Linked DNA regions of Homo sapiens: region 1 is reported to be linked to region 2. Evidence: microRNA targets listed by miRTarBase, many of them from high-throughput screens and not tested one by one. Region 2 holds a microRNA gene; the other region holds the end of a gene's coding sequence.

Region 1 (4,219 bases), not on the chromosome of region 2:
TAGCATAATCAATTCTGTTCTGCCAAATAGACTGAAACCATGCTAGCATCAAAATGTTAGTGATTCTGTGCATTTTGATCATGGTCTCTGTATTTGCTGAGGAACACAGATTTTCAAAGCATTTCTGGGTCATCCATAAAATTCTAATATTTTTAAGGGTATTGATGACCAAACTTGAATATAGCAAATAATAACCTGTCTCTACATGTAGTTTAAATAATGGATTCTACAATAAAAAATGGGAACTTTTTTACCTTCTTGATTTATGGAAAACTATCCTTGAGTAGCTATTTTTAAAAAAACACTTCGAGTAAACACAAATCATTTTGTTAGTCATCAGCCTTAATCAAATGGCATCCATTTTCATAATGAGAATAGATCCATGTGCCTAAAGTTTACGAATTAATTAGCTAATACAACCAAAATAAATTAAAGAATCTGCAGACAGTAGAGGTGCTGGGAAGTTAGAATGAGTGTGTCTGAGACTAAATAATTTATCTCTGTGTCCCCAGGGGCAGTAGGTACTCAGTAAATGTTTGTGGAATTGATTTGAATTCAGCCTTTTGAGTGACATTTAACCAACAAAGCATTTTCTCCCTAAATTTACTGTTTTCTAAAGCATGCTTCTTCCTCCCTCCCAAACCCTGAATACACCCCATTAACCCCTTTTAGGGGAACATCACATGATCTTAAAAGCATTTTCCCACCTCACTTTTGAAAACAGTGCACTAATTTTTGCTATGGAGATAATGCCTTGGGAACAGAAGTTCTGACATGAGCCCTATTAGGAATGTCTGACTGTGCCTTTCCGTAAAAAATATACTATACAGAATTTAACAAAATCAGCAGTAAAAACTTGAGCTATGATACATTCTTTAAAAAACAAGCTTATGACAGGAGCCAAATAAATGCACAGCAGAGAATTTCCCAAAGCCTCAAATGTCTTCGAATATTAGGAAATTCCTGTCTTGGGATAAATTTCCAGATCCACCAGATCACCTACAGAACAGTGGGCAGGTTTGAGCAGGCCACTCTTCTGTGCAAAACTCCTCCTGCATACCAAAGCTGCTTGGTGCTCTCACGCACCATGAAGACCGGTTCAGAAAGAACATTTTATGTTTTTAATGGGTGTTAGTTCTGATCATGGAGCTAGACTAGAGTTATTGAGGAAACATTCTTGATCTACCAATAAATATTGTCCTAGGAATTGGTTGAGGGAATATTCTCCTATCAAGCAAGTTTTGGAGTTACTGAGAAATCTTTCTTTTCTGCTTTAAGTCAAGGGTAATTCCTCCATCTGAGATGCCCTTTCCCTGTGGTCATCTGGGGCCCGCCCAGTTTCTTCCAGGCTTCACTTCCTCTATGAAGACTCTGGTGAGCCAGGTGGAGGTGACCACACTCCTCTGTGCTCCCACTGAGTCTGTGCTGACTGTTTTGAGAAAGGGAAGGCAAGAAAAAGGCCTGGCTTAAGTTAGCCTAGCAGAGGTTAGAAAATATATTTAGAGCCTTAACCTCCAAACTGAGAAATCAGAAATTAATTTTTATTTAATTATAACTCAATAAATATTAATGAAGTGCTCCTGCTACACTGGACACTTTGCTCAGGAGCCTCTCAAATGCCTCTCTGCCTCTATAGTCTACTGGAAACCAGAGTGAGAGTGATTTTGGTGCCAAATTTCCTCTCAGACTCATCCATGAGGTCTCCCAGGATAGGAAGCATTTATAATACGGGCCAAGGGTCACCAGTCATATAATACCGAAATGCTCAGATGGCACAGAATGCATGAAGTTAACATCTTTCATTCTCATGAGCTCATTTGCTCCTTGGAAACAAATGGGCAGATTCCTGCTTTGCAGACAAGTCAACAAAGGCTAGGAGAACAGAGCTGCCTCTCCTGCCCTTGACATATTAGCGTAGGAAAATCATACGGACTAGAGGATATGAACCCACTGAAGCACAGAAGGGACCTCCGCAATGACCAGCCTGTCCTCCAGGGAAGGTCTTGGCTAGGCTCATTAGCTAATCCCATATGTAAATCCCTTTGAATATTTTAAGGGAAAATACCCACATAATACTCTGCATATAAAGTTGCAAATCAAACCTCAAAGATCTAGGTTAACTTCTTCAGATTTGGTGATTGACTTCTTTTTTCCCTTCCCCCATGGAATAAGTCCATTGTCTCTCAGCATCAAACAAGTTGGCAGTGTAGTTGATCTAGTTAACCAGGTATCTGTCTTCAGGTTTCTTCAGGGAACTAATCAGCTGGCTATCTTCCAGTCAGCTGGCTATCTTCCACAGTCAGTAGAGTGCCAGAAATCTGATGTAACAGTTTCAGATGATATTTTTTAAAGGCTTGGAGTTATTATTTTATTTTTTTTTTTTTGGACAGAGTTTTGCTCTTGTTACCCAGGCTGGAGTGCAATGGCGCGATCTGGGCTCACCGCAACCTCTGCCTCCCCAGTTCAAGCAATTCTTCTGCCTCGGCCTCCTGAGTAGCCAGGATTACAGCCATGCGCTACCACGCCCGGCTAATTTTGTATTTTTAGTAGAGATGGGGTTTCTCCACGTTGGTCAGGCTGGTCTTGAACTCCCGGCCTTAGATGATCCACCCACCTTGGCCTCCCAAAGTGTTGGGATTACAGGTGTGAGCCACTGCGCCTGGCCAAGACTTGGAGTTATTCTTTAGAGTATGTTGACTGATGTTTGATCAGGAAGTATCTAGTGGTGTTCATATAAATTTTGAGTGGAGTCTGTCTTGTTTTTCATAGTGTCTTCTGGGTTAAGGTAGAACCCAGCACAAAATAGGTGGGCAAGAAAACTCTACTGAATACAAGCAACTGTTGTATTTTTGATATACATGTGAAACTCATACTTCCTTATTTAGATATCTGTGTACATAATCAAAAGAAAGGTAGCTTTTCTCATATGCTGTAGATGACATGAAAACCAACTCCTTCTGTGTGAACATTCATGAGACATACCAACTCTCTTTTCATTTTTTTTAGGCAAGGCATGAAAGTATGTGGAAAAATTGGTGAAGGATTTTGCCTCTGAAAGTTTATACTGTTTTCTAGAGCTTTCCTTGGACTTCCTTCAAAGCTCCTGAATTGAAGCAAATTTATGATCAAATTGAACAATAACTGGACCACTGGTGACCATTGTATAGCAGGAAGGTGTTGAAATATTTCTCTTTCAATCCTGACCCGAGTAGATCATCCATTCATTTAGTGATCAGTGTCTTAATATTTAGAAACTCGCCAATCCTCCAACCCATCTTAATAATATATTTGCTCTCTTCAGCCTTTTTCCAGTTAGTACTCTCATCAGTAAGGCACATGAAGTGTGAAATTTTGGGCCCCAAATTTCATAGCTAAACCGTTGTCCCTGTGGAATGCCCCCTACTCCCGGCCCCAAGAAAACCCCTGGTTATAATTACATTTGAACAAAGAAAATTAGGAACTCGGTGGCAGAGGACTTTCATATAATGATATTTGCTCTCCTCCTATAGTAAGAAGGCTCCAAAGAAGGTTTTATCTTCTTTTGTGTAATCCACCAAAGAGATGTCACTGACGTTCACCATTAGCTTGTCCCCTTCTTGCAAGGAGAACATGGCTCCGAGGTAGATGGGCTGGAACCAGTTGCTACCTACTTCGCATACAGACTTGGTCCCCATGAGGAGCTGGGTTGGCTCAGGGTAGCTGTCTGTTACCTTGGTGATGACCACAGTGATGGAGTCTGGCTTGTTTGGTCGGCCTGCTTGTCTGATTTCACTGCACTCAGAGGTCATCCCACGGAATGTGACCTGGGAGTAAATGAAGTAGTCTCCCGACTCTGGGATCAGCAGGAATTTGTTGGTATAGTTCATTCGGTTCTTGGTGAAGGCCAGGCCTAGTTCATGTTCCCAGTGCAGAGCTGGGAACTGATTTTTAAAGTGCTGTGTGGGAGTTTGTCTCACAACTGGAAAGACAAGAAAGAGGATTAATTTTCTCATTGGGAAACTGTAGACTTTGCTTAAAAAGTGTCTCATATCATTTTCAAAATAGACTAAAGTGATCGAATATACCTAACAGCTAAAAACTGCTTTGGGGAGGAATGAATGAAGAATATGTGACTGGACATACACATTTGTTCAAAGAGAATAACATCTTGGACTAGTGACCTGGGGCAAATTACTTTGCCTTTCTGAGACTGAGTGGTCTGACCTGAAAATTTTTAATT
Region 2 (4,257 bases):
GAATCCTGATCAGGGTTGCTGCATACAGCCTGAAGTCTGCACCACTAGAGAAGGTTGCCATCCATGTAAACTACGAGTGTTAATTGTGCCCAATGGCCTAATCATGATACTCCCCCTGCTTTCAAACTTCATTAGATAAAACAAACCTACAGCACTATAAAATCTTTCAACTGGCTCCACTTTCTATTTTTCTAGCTTCAGGTTCTCATCATTCCTCTATGCACCCTACAATCCAGACATATTTAACTTTTCAGTATGCCCTATCAAAACCCACACTTTTGTGGATTTTTCTTTAGTCTGTACTGCCCTCTCTCCGTACAACTTCTAAATCCTTCAAACTACAGTTCAAACGTACCCTCCTCTGTGAAGCATTTTTTGACCAGCCTAGACAAAGATACTTCACTAAGTGTTTTGTTAACAGTTCTATTACAGAATTTGTTGCATTGTATAATGATCACATATATCCATCTCTCAAATTCAATGGAGAGTTGAGCAGTGCATAAAGAAGCTCCATATTTGTACCCTCAGTATCTATAATGTCCAGCCCCTAAAAGGGGTTAAGTTCATGTTTATTAATGCTATACTTAACCATATGCATTAGTACAACTTTTTAAAAGTAAATTAAAATGAGTTTAAAAAAGAAGTTACATGTTCAGCTGTCAATCTATCTATAATCCATGTGGCAGAAAGAACTGATGTGACTATTCTTGATTCCTACACTTCCTGGTGTTTAAACCTTTGTATAATTCCCTCCCCTTGCACGTGAACTGGACCTATGACTTGCTTCTAATGAATGAAATACAGCAAAGGCAATGGGTTGTATGTGATTACATGTACACGATTATGTAAGAACATAGCACCAGTTCACCTTTCCTTTGCTTACTTTGAAGAAGCAAGCTGCTCTGAACCTAACAGACACAAGGAAATAAATTCAGCCAATAACCCAAGGAAGTCTGTGGGCAGACCTTTCCCCAGTTGAGTCACTAGATAACAACCCTGCCCTGACCTACACTTTGACTGCAGTCTTAAAGAGGACACAGCTAAGTTGTGCCCAGCCTCTTGACCCACAGAAATTGCAAGGCAATAAACGTGTTGCTTAGAACCACTAAATTTGCAGTCATTTGTGAATAAGCAGCTTAGAAAACGAATAAAATCAGAACCTAAGGTATTTCTGAACCCTTTGTTCACAAAAAGGCCTATGTTTTGTCCAATTTCTTAACAAATAAATGTCATGTACATGCAAAATTAAAACACAGACTAACATTTCAAATAACAGTTCTTAAGAATATTCACATAAAACTTAGGAAGTAATTTGCTACATAAAGCAGTTCCTACACTCTCTTTTAACACATTTGCCAATATACCCAATTATACATAATACTACATGTAATAAGTTTAATATTAGGGCAATTCTCCTTAAAACCCAAATAATAATAAATAGTTTAAAAGTTGATATCTCATTAATGATATTTGGTAATCAGAAGAACTTAGTTACTGGTCACCAGGCAAAGCGATCAAATTGGAGGAGAGCAAGAGACTTGTTGGAGATGTGCCTGAGGGAGTAAGACACTATCTTACAACAACAGGGCTCTTACTCCCTCAGGCACTGCACCAGCCAGCAAAGCATCAAAATACCAGGTTCTTAGGTCACGCTGCTCTCAGATCAGGTGATGCCCTGTGCAACTCACCAATCCTCCCCACCTTGCAGTCAAGAATAATTCCAAAAAATTCCCAAAGCAGAAACTTCCATGACACAGGCCACACTTACACACAGCAAAACATGTAACACGAAGGTATGAAATTACAAGTGAGGAACAATAACCACCAAAATTCTTATTACTTCAGGAGTGGCAGGGGTTGTGGTTAGAAGGCTCATTTTTCTTAGAAAGAGGCAAACATTCCTCTTCGGCCACTCCCCATAAAAGCCTTCAATGGCACAAAATAACATTCAGGAATAGGAAATAGATTAATTACAATATCCCAAATTCAAACATTTTGGCACTTGATATTGGTAAGAAGTGATAACTGAGACCGATTCCATAATGGTTAATTGATGAAGATAACCTAACACCATAAAACTTCACATCTGCCTTAAAAATTAAGAGAAATCTTCCTAGAAATACAGGTCTTATTCAACATATTCAGTTTTAAGAGATAACCCACACTCCTTCAATATAAGAAAACATGTTTCACAAGTAGCAAGGCACCTGAGTTACAATCAGACTACTGAAATACTCATGAGCAAGCCACACCCAAAAAAGCTCAAGAAAATCAGGAGGCCAAAAGCAACCCAGCACCACTGGTTGTCTTAGATTAAGTCATTTTACATTTTCACTTCTGGACTCAAGGATACATTATAGAAGTCCACACGATTTCTCTGGAAATAATCTCCATGTATTGGTATATTTCTATAGCCCAATTCATCTACCCCATCCTTGCTGCATCATTAAAGGCTATTTGACCACTCATATTATGCTCTTATGAACAACAGCTACTTGACAGTGGAAAAAAAAACGTAGACGTAAATTAAAGCCAAACAAACCCTAAAATACCATCAACATTTTTAAATATTAGGAAATACCCTTAAGACCTGTTTTAAAACAAAGGTGATGGACGACACTAGCAGTAGTCAAGAAAGCGTCTGTTCACTTTAACACTCCTCAGTCTGAAAAGAATAATAAGGACAAGATTTACTTCACCTAAAAACTCCTATATAAATATAATCACATTCTGATGTCTGGCAACTCAATTCTAGGAAATTTCTACACACTGAAATATCTGGATTAGGCATTTTTCTTCCAGTTCTCTAGAGAGAATAAGAGTGTATATAGCCAAAACAGATGTCCAAATGACATCAAAACATAAAACCAACACAGAAAACTTCCTCGTTCAATGTGGCAATTCATTATGAGAGAACTACTAACAATTCCACTTGCTAGACTCTTAAGTGTTAAAAATAAAAGGGGGGGACTGTTTTTCATTTTCTATAAATTACATGAGAGCTCACAAGAGAATAATTTTGAATCTTATTAGTACCACATTTTCTTATTAGGAGACGTTAATAATATAAACAACAATTAAAACAACAGTTTTACAAAAAACAATACGAACTTTCCACTAATTCTGAAATAATCCTTTTATCAATTTTCAGATGCAGTTATTTGTATATAACCATTTATACAATTTGTAACTGAATAAACACAATAATGTTATAATAGATACTAAAAAGTTAAGTAAATGTGAACTAGTCAAGTCTTTTTTAATTATAAGATTCTTCATTTAGCTCCCTAAATCTCAAGATGATGAGAAACATGCTTCTATTGTTTTCCTAATAACCCGTCCACTAAAATATAGGTAAAAATCTCAGTAAGGCAATGCCACTAAGATGGGTTTTTACGTAAATGTATTCCATCTCCCTGCCTCAACAGAGATTTCAGGATGTGGCACTTTCATCTGATCCTGTCATATAATAAGAACAGGTAATTTCTCTGATGTCTTTCCAGCAATTCTCAACTGAGGTTCCTCATCTGAATCACCAAACACAGGAAATTATTTCAGTGACTTTTCTCAATTGTTCCAAGAATGATACATAACTAAAACCGTTCTAAATGCACTGGAGCTAAAAGTTAAAATTCATTGCACACTACGGCACAATTGTCTCCAGAAAGCCGGGTGAGAAAGGCTGCTGTAAGTTCCTCAGAAAGTGTCACTGTACTACTAGGCCCCAGTCACCCAACCCCAACAGCACTAAAAGAACTATAATGAGTGCACAAATCTAGAACTTAGATAAGAAAAAAGATAAATGCTTTATCTCCAACTTTAAGCAACTAGGTATTTTTACTTACTAGGAATAGCATGGGGCTCAACTGTCTCTTGCTCTGAATAGAATGCATTTACTTAACAAAATAAACCCACAGAACTATAATGTTTCTCAAAGGGAATTATCAGCTCTTAGAAAATGAATTTTTAGAAATCAGCATATTAAATAAATATTAACTATTAACTTGACAAGGCTTTTCCTATTCACCCTTCTTTAGCAAACTTAAATATTCATCTTCTAATAATTGCTAAATGCAAATTTTCACTTTAAAAAGATAATGATAAACATTAAAAACCAGTTTGCCCTTCATTCTCGCACTAATCACCAATTCTCAGAAACTGCCTTTTATATTCTTCAGTGCGGACTACAGCAACTTCAACTGTTAGGTTAGTTGTGATCAAATCACTTTAAGGACACCAGTAGAGTTCTTTTACTCA

Evidence for each region. The annotated mature microRNA hsa-miR-550b-3p reads UCUUACUCCCUCAGGCACUG and lies in region 2 at 1,590-1,609, shown strand. An mRNA with a match to its seed (bases 2 to 7 or 8) in the 3' UTR can be bound and repressed. Matches are read on the target gene's strand: a 7mer-m8 pairs with bases 2 to 8, a 7mer-A1 pairs with bases 2 to 7 and ends in A, and an 8mer does both.
Region 1: the mRNA of TNFSF15 is a reported target of hsa-miR-550b-3p. The part of its 3' UTR that is shown has no 7-base or 8-base seed match.

Annotation. Positions count from the first base shown.
Region 1 is chr9:114,786,949-114,791,167 of GRCh38, forward strand. It overlaps TNFSF15 (TNF superfamily member 15), which reads right to left. Exons shown (of 4, transcript NM_005118.4): 4 at 1-3,958. The coding sequence ends at 3,504. Among named protein-coding and RNA genes, the nearest start is that of TNFSF15, 17 kb to the right of the region's middle.
Region 2 is chr7:30,287,166-30,291,422 of GRCh38, reverse strand. MIR550B1 (microRNA 550b-1) reads left to right here and starts at 1,533; the gene lies at 1,533-1,629. All of the region lies in intron 1 of ZNRF2 (zinc and ring finger 2), which reads right to left. MIR550A1 (microRNA 550a-1) reads right to left here and starts at 1,629; the gene lies at 1,533-1,629.